Homo sapiens: one gene and its partners. The protein of the gene in region 1 interacts with the protein of each later gene in a biochemical or structural test. Each region holds a gene or a part of one and is shown in the gene's direction. Other genes may lie near its edges.

What was found.
Region 2: the proteins of CHEK2 (region 1) and CALM1 form a complex in vitro, tested with the Homo sapiens proteins (one study listed by BioGRID).
Region 3: of the proteins of CHEK2 (region 1) and STRAP, one has a biochemical effect on the other in vitro, tested with the Homo sapiens proteins (one study listed by BioGRID and IntAct).

The regions. Positions count from the first base shown.
Region 1 is NC_000022.11:28,735,321-28,738,820, reverse strand, and holds part of CHEK2 (serine/threonine-protein kinase Chk2), read left to right. Parts: exon of another isoform or gene 1-1,537; coding exon of another isoform or gene 1,538-1,561; intron 1,562-3,500. UniProt on the Homo sapiens protein: Serine/threonine-protein kinase which is required for checkpoint-mediated cell cycle arrest, activation of DNA repair and apoptosis in response to the presence of DNA double-strand breaks.
Region 2 is NC_000014.9:90,403,336-90,407,064, forward strand, and holds part of CALM1 (calmodulin-1), read left to right. Parts: intron 1-526; coding exon 527-633; intron 634-1,043; coding exon 1,044-1,179; intron 1,180-1,353; coding exon 1,354-1,382; 3' UTR 1,383-3,729. UniProt on the Homo sapiens protein: Calmodulin acts as part of a calcium signal transduction pathway by mediating the control of a large number of enzymes, ion channels, aquaporins and other proteins through calcium-binding. Calcium-binding is required for the activation of calmodulin.
Region 3 is NC_000012.12:15,888,754-15,892,482, forward strand, and holds part of STRAP (serine-threonine kinase receptor-associated protein), read left to right. Parts: intron 1-1,174; coding exon 1,175-1,256; intron 1,257-1,843; coding exon 1,844-1,916; intron 1,917-3,729. UniProt on the Homo sapiens protein: The SMN complex catalyzes the assembly of small nuclear ribonucleoproteins (snRNPs), the building blocks of the spliceosome, and thereby plays an important role in the splicing of cellular pre-mRNAs.

The DNA.
Region 1 (3,500 bases):
TTTTAGCTTGATGAAATCCCAGTTGTCTGTTTTTGCTTTAGTTGCCTGTGCTTTTGAGGTCTTACGTAAAAACCCTGTGCCCAAAAAACCTGTGCCCAAGATGAGTGTCCTGGAGCACTTCCCCAGTGTTTTCTTCTAGTAGTTTTATAGGTTTTGGGACTGGATTTCTGTCTACAGTCCTGGAGTTTTGCTGCCCTCACTTTGGTTTTTCACTCACTTCTCTGCATGGCTTTCCAATAGCAATAGCTCCCAGATAGCAAGCATGGGTGGGTGGGGGGAGTATTACATGCGTCACTTCACTTAATCCTCATGGTCTGTCTACTTATTTTCAGATGAGAAAACAGGTTTAGAGAAGTTGTGATCTACCTAAAGTCATGCACAGTTTCACTCAAGTGTCTGACTCCAGATCCGCTTGCCTCTAATCTCTCATAGTAACTTGTTGACACATTTTCTCCAGTTGTCCTGTCTTGCTTAAAAAGCTGTGGGGAAGACTCAGCCTGGCTCAGGTAGTATTAGACCAGCAGTCCCTGGTGTGGCATACTCAGTTTTGGCATTGCCTTCCTGGTATGTTTTAAAGAAAACTCATCAGAACCTTTGTATCTTTTTTATTTTCCTTGAGACAGGGTCTCGCTCTGTCACCCAGGCTGGAGTGCAGGCTCGATCACGGCTCACTGCAGCCTCAACCTCCTGGACTCAAGTGATCCTCCCACCTCAGCTTCCCAAGTAGCTGGGACTACAGGTGCACACCACCATGCCCTGCTAATTTTTTGTATTTTCTGTAGATACTGGATTTCACCATGGTGCCCAGGCTGGTCTTGAATTCCTGGGCTCAAGCAATCTACCTGCGTTGGCCTCCCAAAGTGCTGGGATTACAGACATGAACCACCACACCTGGCAGAACCTTTGTATCTTGAAAGCTGTGTAAATACAATCAGTGTGGGTATCTTAGTCCCTCCTTATCAGCGGTAGTAGTTTCACTTACCAATGGTCAGCTGCGATCTGAAACTATTAAGTGGAAAATTCATAAGAAATAGTCAATTCATGGCTGGGCATGGTGGCTCAGGCCTGTAATCCTAGCAGTTTGGGAGGCTGAGGTGGACCTGAGGATCACCTGAGGTCTGCAGTTTGAGACCAGGCTGGCCAATACGGTGAAAACCCTGTCTCTACTAAAAAAAATATACAAATTAGCCGGGCATGGTGGTGTGCGCCTGTAATCCCAACTACTTGGAAGGCTGAAGCAGGAGAATTGCTTGAACCCAGGAGGTGGAGGTTGCAATGAGCCAAAATTGTGCCACTGCACTCCAGCCTGGGTGACTGAGACTCCGTTTCAAAAAAAAAAAAAAAAAGAAATAATCAGTTCATAAGTCTTAAATTACATGGTTTTGCAGTGCTTGTGTTCATGTCACCCTTATATTTAATAATGGCCCCAAAGCAAAAGATGCTGGCAATTTGGATATTGTAAAGAGAAGCTGTAAAGTGTTTCCTTTTACTGAAAAGGTGAAAGATCTCAATTTAATATGGAAATAAAAAAATTTGTATGCTGAGGCTGCTAACGTCTATGGTAAGAACTAATCTTCTATTTGTGAAATTGTGAAGAAGGAAAAAGAAAGTTGTGCATAATTTATATAGGGTTCTGTACTATGCGAGGTTTCAGGCATCCACTGGGGGGTCTTGGATCTTATCCCCCTCTGATGGTGGGGACTACTATAGTGTTGTTTCCTATGTTCTCCTAGAGTAGTAGCCTGAGTTTGGGGAGGAAGAGAATGCCCTCCTCTCCCTCCCTTTTTTTTGTTAATCCGATTAGGTCAGCAGTGGATGTTACTTTGATTTTACTGGTGGTTCTGTTATCAGAGTCTTGGTTTGTTTTCTGTTCTTTGGAGATAGGGTCTCACTCTGCCACCCAGGCTGGTATGTAAGTGGTATGATCATAGCTCACTGCAGCCTTCAACTCCTGGGCTCAAGTGATCCTCCCACCTCACCTTCCTGAGTAGCTGAGCCCACAGCTGCATGCCATCATGTCTAATTTTCTTATTTTTTGTACGGGGGGCGGGGGGGGTCCCACTATGTTGGCCAGGCTGGTATTGAACTCGTGGCCTCAAGTGGTCCTCTTGCCTTGGCCTCCCAAAGTGCTGGGATTACAGGTATGAGCCACTGCACCCAGCCTGTTATGACAGTCTAACTGTCTATCAGGTTAATTCTAAGACAAGGGTGGAAGCCTCTGTTACGGTCTCCAGTTTATAAAAGAATGGTTCCTGCAAGATTACATCAAGGCCGGAAGGCCATTTAGGATGCTGAAAAGATAAGCCCTATGGTTATTTAGCATCACAAAGGGATAGGTGGAGTTGTTAAGAGCTGTCTTCCTTTGTGTTCTGCCTCATTAAGTCACTGGGTCCTTAGGTGTCAGGGAATATAGATTGAACGAACAGGTGTGTTTCACTTTAGGAGCAAGCCTGGGGGAAAAGGGGTACCAGTGACATTTTATGTAAATGGACCCTTTGGAGTAATGCAGCAGGTTATTGTACAATTTCTTTTTGACTTTTATATCAAGCCACCTGATTTTTTGTCTTCTTTTGCTTTCCAAAGTACACAGATGCTCCTCAACTTTCAATGGCATTATGTCTAAATAAAACCATTCTAAGTTGAAAATATTGTTAAATTGAAATTACATTTAATACACCTAAGATACCAAACGTCATAGTTTAGCCTAGCCTCCTTTAAACATGCTCAGAACACTTATGTCAGGGTACAGTTGGGCAAAATTATCTAACACAAAGATTATTGTTATTATTTTTTGTAGAGGTGGGGTCTCAAACACCTGCCCTCAAGCAATCCTCCTACCTCCACCACCCGAAATATTGGGTTTACAGTTGTGAGTCACTGCACCTGGCCTATTTTATTTTATTTTAAAATTTTATTTATTTAATTAATTAATTTTTTTGAGACAGGGTTTCACTCCTGTCACCCAGGCTGGAGTGCAGTGGCGCGATCTCAGCTCAGTGCAACCTCTGCCTCCTGGGCTCGAGCAATTCTCCTGCTTCAGCCTCCTGAGTAGCTGGAACTACAGGCGCCTGCCACCACACCCGGCTAATTTTTGTATTTTTAGTGGACACGGGGTTTGACTGTGTTGGCCAGGCTGGTCTTGAACTCCTGATCTCAGGTGATCTACCTGCCTTGACCCCCCAGAGTTCTGGGATTATAGGTGTGAGCCACTGCACCTGGCCACCTGGCCTATTTTATAATAAGGTGTTAAATATCTCATGTAATTACTTGAATACTGTACTGAAGGTGAAAACCAGAATGGTTATGTGAGGACTTGGAGAAGTAAGTGTCTACTGATTGCTTTCACAGAAAGTCTAAACATTGTTAAATAGAAGCATTGTTAAATTGAGGACTGTATATATGAGTTTTTTTTTTTGAAACGGAGTCTTGCACTGTTGCCCAGGCTGGAGTGCAGTGGTGCAATCTTGGTTCACTGCAACCTCTGCCTCCCGGGCTCAAGC
Region 2 (3,729 bases), on another chromosome or scaffold:
CCATGCATGGCATAACAGAATCAATGTTCCTCTCTCATAATCTTTTCTCCTCTGAAACACTTTATACACTTAACCTGCAGCTCAGTTCTAGGCCTTTTTTGTGTTACTGCTGTCACTAACCAAGGCAGAGTGAGACCTGAGTGATTTCCCTAACTCAGGGATGGCAGTCGGGGGCGCTTTCTTCCCTCGGAGTGGAAAGATTCAGCCTGCGGAGTGGTGTATGCTATTTTTCTCTTGAACTGTACAGCCCTTCATGACCCTTCCATGGGCTTGAATCCAGATGTGCAGTTTCCTTTGTATAATTAAATACTATCCTGGGCACTGATGATGAGTTTGAAATTATGTGAAATTGCCCTGTGAAGTGTTTGAACGTTTTAGACCTGCAGATGATTGAACCTAGTAAGATAGTCTGCCCCTTTGTCCTAGTACATGTTTACCGTTCCGTACAGTGGTTCTGAAATGATTACTGCAGAGCAGCGTTAATGGAGTGCTTACTTTACATGAGCTTTTTGTTTTTTAATTCGAGGTAATGGCACCATTGACTTCCCCGAATTTTTGACTATGATGGCTAGAAAAATGAAAGATACAGATAGTGAAGAAGAAATCCGTGAGGCATTCCGAGTCTTTGACAAGGTAATCCAGCATCTACATAGCAGATGGTACTTAAGTATGGCTTCTTCCGCTTTCACTTCTAAAAGCTATAATAATGTTATAGACAGAAGACTTAAATCTAACTGCCTGAGCCTCTGATCTCACTTTCAAAAATCCTCCTTATGGTAACCGTATCAGGGGAGGGTAGGCATAATAAATAGGAATTTTGGACCATGTTTCTTGACTGTTACTTTGAATTGTTGTGAGCTTTTGCAAATCCTGTTTTCTGCATTAGCTGTTTGCATGTATTTAGTAGGTTAGAGGTGGGAACTAGAGATCAGAGAATTGTTTATGGCAGCAGAGTTAGCAGTAACTTGAGAGGGCATAGCTAAGTCAAAGACCTACTTCCCCACACTACATCATTAGCAATAACAATTGCTGAATGTTCACAGGATGGCAATGGTTATATCAGTGCAGCAGAACTACGTCACGTCATGACAAACTTAGGAGAAAAACTAACAGATGAAGAAGTAGATGAAATGATCAGAGAAGCAGATATTGATGGAGACGGACAAGTCAACTATGAAGGTAAAACTAAATTCTCTGAGCTCAGTGTTTCATAGTCTTACCTTTAGATCTGTAAGCAAGCCAACTGCTTCACTAGACAGCCTTTGACTTTATTTTATGTACAGTAAAGATGTTGTGTTCATTAAAGCTGTTTTCAAAGATAACCAAAAGTTACTATTATATTTGTCTTTTCAGAATTCGTACAGATGATGACTGCAAAATGAAGACCTACTTTCAACTCCTTTTTCCCCCCTCTAGAAGAATCAAATTGAATCTTTTACTTACCTCTTGCAAAAAAAAGAAAAAAGAAAAAAGTTCATTTATTCATTCTGTTTCTATATAGCAAAACTGAATGTCAAAAGTACCTTCTGTCCACACACACAAAATCTGCATGTATTGGTTGGTGGTCCTGTCCCCTAAAGATCAAGCTACACATCAGTTTTACAATATAAATACTTGTACTACCTTAATGATAAGGACTCCTTAAAGTTCCATTTGCTAATGATTAATACACTGTTTGGGCTGGCCAGTTTTTCATGCATGCAGCTTGACGATTGAGCACAGTCAGGCCTTTGTATTAAAAATGAAAAATGAAAAAACAAATTCAAAACCTATTCAAATGGGTTCTAGTTCAATTTGTTTAGTATAAATTGTCATAGCTGGTTTACTGAAAACAAACACATTTAAAATTGGTTTACCTCAGGATGACGTGCAGAAAAATGGGTGAAGGATAAACCGTTGAGACGTGGCCCCACTGGTAGGATGGTCCTCTTGTACTTCGTGTGCTCCGACCCATGGTGACGATGACACACCCTGGTGGCATGCCCGTGTATGTTGGTTTAGCGTTGTCTGCATTGTTCTAGAGTGAAACAGGTGTCAGGCTGTCACTGTTCACACAAATTTTTAATAAGAAACATTTACCAAGGGAGCATCTTTGGACTCTCTGTTTTTAAAACCTTCTGAACCATGACTTGGAGCCGGCAGAGTAGGCTGTGGCTGTGGACTTCAGCACAACCATCAACATTGCTGTTCAAAGAAATTACAGTTTACGTCCATTCCAAGTTGTAAATGCTAGTCTTTTTTTTTTTTTTTCCAATAAAAAGACCATTAACTTAAAGTGGTGTTAAATGCTTTGTAAAGCTGAGATCTAAATGGGGACAAGGCAGGTGGAGGGGAGGCCAGTGTACATGTAAATGCCCACAGCCCAGCATTGGGTTTCCCTCCCAAGGCCCCAGCACCAACCTCTGAGCCCAAGACCTTGCCTGAAAACAAGCAGATACCGATTGCTTCATCCTATTTATGGACATGTAGGTCTAGTTGCATTTTCACTGGGGGGAGGGGGGAAGGTGAATTATGGTAACTTTTAATGATCTATTCAGGCAGTAGAGCTCTTAAGGAAAAAAAAAAACCCACTTTCTCTCAAGCATGTATTTAGGGGTTGTTCTCAATTGTGCTGCTGATTACCTGTCTTATGTAACTACTTGAGACCATCTGCAAGAGACATGATTTAGTGTGTCTGTAATTCAATCTTCGCTGTGTGTGGTAGAAGCAGTAGTCACTTTTGTAAGCCAGTCTCTTCATGCCTAAAAGACACTACCAGTCACCTTTGATTCGCGACTTTTAATTTATGATTATACTTAGCCTCCTCCTCCTTTTTTTTTTTTTCCCAAGTTGACTTGACTTTGCTTTTTTCCCCCCAAGTAGAACTAATGCTAGCTTCCAGCTTGAAAGTAAAACTCCAGTGTGGAGTGAATTTTGTGTCTAATTATAAACCTGTAACCAAAACTCAGACATCTGGTACTGGTCTTTGCATTGAGATTGGTCCCTGTAAAACCCCCTTTAAAAGCATATTGCATTTAGTACAGAGCTCTTTTTTGAAATGAAGGCTGGAGATGTGCATTTTTCACGGTGTTAACTGGTTGTATCTTATTAGCAAGGAGATTGGGGTTTTGAGTGTTTGCGTGGGTGGTTTCAATTTGCCAGGGAACAGTGGCAGGCTGCTAGCAAGGCAGTGAGAAGCTCTTGGCAGCCAAATGGGTGCATTCAGGGCTGATTTATAGAGACCCTTGGCTTCTCCTTCTCCTACTCCCTGTCTTTCTGGCATTTTGTAGCTTGTTAGATTTTCTGCCAGAGGGGTGGGTCAGAGCAGTGGAGGGGAGACATCGCCCATGTGCTTCTGCTACTGGTCCTTGGGCTGGGTGGTTGGTAGAGGAGATGTTGACACTATGAGCTAAGGGTTGGCTTTTGTAATTACCTGAATCTGAAAGGAATGCCTAAGGTTACCTTGGGGTTTCTCTTCTGGTGAGATAGGGTTCCTGGTTTGAGTAAGTTAATGTCCTGGATATTTCTTGTGGCAGGGGGTGGTCAAAGAGCCTGATTGCTGACCCAGTCTCAGGCCTGTGGTCGATGACCTCTCGGTAGTTTCAAAGGGGGCTGGAGGGGGATATTTGACTTGTTTTTTCGAAATGTAGCCTTCTAACCCTCAAGTCTTTAGAAGCTGGGTGGACTCTTAGTGGTCCTGCAGCGTATCCTAAAAGACTACCTTTGAAACAGGATTCTTGTATGGCCAGG
Region 3 (3,729 bases), on another chromosome or scaffold:
ATTTCTTAAATGTGATATTTAATGCATGTTTTTCTCCTCAGCTAAAGCTCTACTATGGCAAGAACCTACTGTGGGGTATTTTTTGTCTCCCATTTGTGCCTTAGCACTAAGTATAGAATGATATATATTTAATATATTTTATTATGTATTGGGGTAAGCAAAAGAAAAGATACATCTTGCTTTTCTCTGATTTTTTTCCCTCTACCATTTTATTGCCCACTGTGTTCCTGAAAATAAATAGCAGTTGCATTAAAATGGAAATCTCTATGGAACATAGCTTTTTCACTCTTAGCAATTCTTTTCCCTGTCTGCAAAGTTTTCTTGTTTATTTTTCACTGACCTGTTCTGATCTAAAATCAACTTTTTTTTCCCCCTTCCTTAAGCTTTTTTATTTGGGGGAACCCTTTTAGAGTAATTTTGTAAAGTATTGCTCAACTATTACCCGCCCAGAATATACATACACATATAAATGTATGTATACCTATAACCAACTTGTATTTTGGGGTGGGGTGGGACAGAAAAAACAATGTAAAGATTAAAATAGTCAGTGTTAGCATTATATAATCAAAGGCTGATAGTTTGGGGGAAGTTAACTGTACTAGAGTTTGAAATTTTAAGTCAGCTTTGAAGAAGAGATGAAGTGGACATTGTCTCTCCACTATCTTAATTTAAAATTTTACTTAGCCTGTACCAAGGCTTTTCATTCCCTTGTAACATTTTTAAGGATTTCTGGTTTTTTTATTTATTTTTATTTTTTATTGTGCATCTGAGTGGAGAATAGAGAAAAAATTGGCATGGTGAAACTAAAAATTGGTTAAAATGTATGACAGGCTTGCTAAAGGGATATTATGGCTGTCAGCTAAAATAAAAGTAAGGAGGATGGGTTGGTTCATGAATCTTACTTGCTTAAATTGTTCATATCTTTTCCACTGTCAAAGAAAATTAGATTGGTTATAAAGTTTTTACAGAGAAATTTCTTTTCCCTTAAGCTTATTTAAATATTTTATCAAATGAAGTCTGTGAGGGATATTAGAGATAAAGGAGATTTATAATACATTTATGTAACATTTCACATATCTAACTTATTTGGTACTCATCAATATTATAATTGTATTTATCCTTTTAATATATTGGGTAATATTTATCCTACTAATTTTCTCTTTTTTACTTTTAGCAAAGTGTGGGATGCTGTCTCAGGAGATGAATTGATGACCCTGGCTCATAAACACATTGTCAAGACTGTGGATTTCACGCAGGTATCAGAAAATGGAATTTATTTTAGCGAGTTAAGTTGCTGGTACATAGTGTGATAATGCTTTTATACTTGATTGGTGTGTATATTTGATTGATATGTTTTGTGTGGAATATTTGTTATTTCTTGGTTCATATTTGATTTGATTGTGTATTAAGCTCTATGAATTTGTTTCATAGTTAATCCTGTCAAGCTTTTAAGATACTGTGGAACGAGTACCAGTCCTTCAACATGTAAAAAACATCTGAAAAGCTCAAGTAGCCTTCCCCAACTACTAATAGAAGGGAGAAGATAAATTTGAGATAATCAGAAAAGGGCCTCTCACAAGGGAGAGGAGTAGGATCAGGGGAGAATGGGAGAGTTCATGTATATGTAGTGTAGTGTAACGCTTTTGAAGTGGAAAGCTTACAAGTCTTGGCAGTTATGAGAGGTCAGCTGTTCCACAGTATCTTCTCAGAAGTAATTGGTTATGTCTTGGCATCTCTTTGTGATGTCTGTGAGCTAGATTTTGATTTTATTTGGTGTTGAAATTTGAAAGAGAAATAACTATTAAAATGGTTAATCTATTCACATTTTACTTTGTGTTTTCAGGATAGTAATTATTTGTTAACCGGGGGACAGGATAAACTGTTACGCATATATGACTTGAACAAACCTGAAGCAGGTAAGCATAATTTAAACATCAGCTTCTAGTTTTATTTTCTTTTAATTTAAATAACTGATTAAAGAATTTCATGCTCAGTACTCAAATTTGGAAAATAAAGATAGTCATGGCCGGGCACGGTGGCTCATACCTGTAATCCTAGCACTTTGGGAGACTGAGGCGGGTGGATCACTTGAGGTCAGGAGTTCGAGACCAGCCTGGCCAACATGGCAAAACCCCGTCTCTATTAAAAATAGAAAAATTAGCCAGGCATGGTGGCAGGCGCTTGTAATCCCAGCTACTTGGGAGGCTGAGGCAGGAGAATCGCTTGAACCCGGGAGGTGGAGGTTGCAGTGAGCCGAGATTGCGCCACTGCACTCCAGCCTGGGCAATAAGAGTGAAACTCAGTTTCAAAAAAAAAAAAATAGTCAACAAAGAAGAAAATTAAAACGTAATTCATCAGTTTTTGGTTTATAAACTTTCAGTCTTTTTTTCTGCACAGTTTTTAAAAAATAAGTTTATTTGCTATGTTGCTATTGTATAACCTTCTTCCAAACTGAAAATTTATTATGGCAAATTTTTATCATTAAGTTTTAAAACAGTGCAGAACAGTGTTACTATTTTTTGGTAAGAAAGATTGGTTATTTATAGAAGTTGGTGATGGTGAGAATTCTCAGTTGTGTGCACATATTGCTTAGATTTTTGAACCATGTAAATATATTAGCTATTCGAAAGAATTTTAAAAAATCTGCAGTTACAGTTTTTTCATTTCACTAAATAGTCTATGAACTGTTTGTAATGACTTTCTGGTTTTCCATCCTGTGGTTATATCATAAGTGAATTAACTAGTTTCCTGTTTTGGCCCGTTTGGGCTACTTACAGATTTTAAATATGAAAAGCAGTATTATGCTAAACATCCTTACAGTTGCAAATATTTTCACAATGATTTCCTTAAGATAACTAAGCAAAAGTAGAATTGGTGGGACAAAGAGGAGTGGAATTGTTGGAAGGTGGCCGGGCGCAGTGGCTCACGCCTGTAATCCCAGTGCTTTGGGAGGCCAAGGTGAGTGGATCACCTGAGGTCAGGAGTTCAATACCAGCCTGGCCAACATGGTGAAACCCCATCTCTACTAAAAGTACAAAAAAATTAGCTGGGCATGGTGGCAGGCGCCTGTAATTCCCAGGTACTCAGGAGGGTGAGGCAGGAGAATCGCTTGAACCCGGGAGGTAGAGGTTGCAGTGAGCCGAGATTGCATACCAGCCTGGGGGACAAGAGCAAAACTCCTTCTCAAAAAGAAAAAAAAAAAATGAATTGTTGGAAGCCATTGATAGATACTACCAAAGTGTCTTCCAACAAAGTATGGGTATATATGTATGTATCTATACCCAACATGTTCTAGTGAGCACTGATAACTAACTTTCTCTTTGTCAATTTAAGAAAATAATTCTGTTGTATTAATGTGAATATTCATGAGATTAAAATGCTATTGAATACCATTTTAATATATTCCCTTTTTTATGGAATAATTGCCTGTCTACCTTTTGTCCATTTATCTGTTGTGTTATTCATGTTTTTCTTACTGGTTTTTAAAGGTTCTTTATTGAATTCTAATTTATCATTTGCTTTTAAATTTTGTTAAGGTGGTTTTATGGTATATATGTTTTTAACATTTTGGTGGTGAAATTCTTTATGCATTCTCTCATTTTACAGAAGTTATAGGTGTCTTCCCCAGTCTACATGTTTATTTTATAATATTTTAATAATTTCCCTCACCATATATATACTTAGCTACCAAAACATGACAAACATAATTTTGTTTTATTATATATTTGG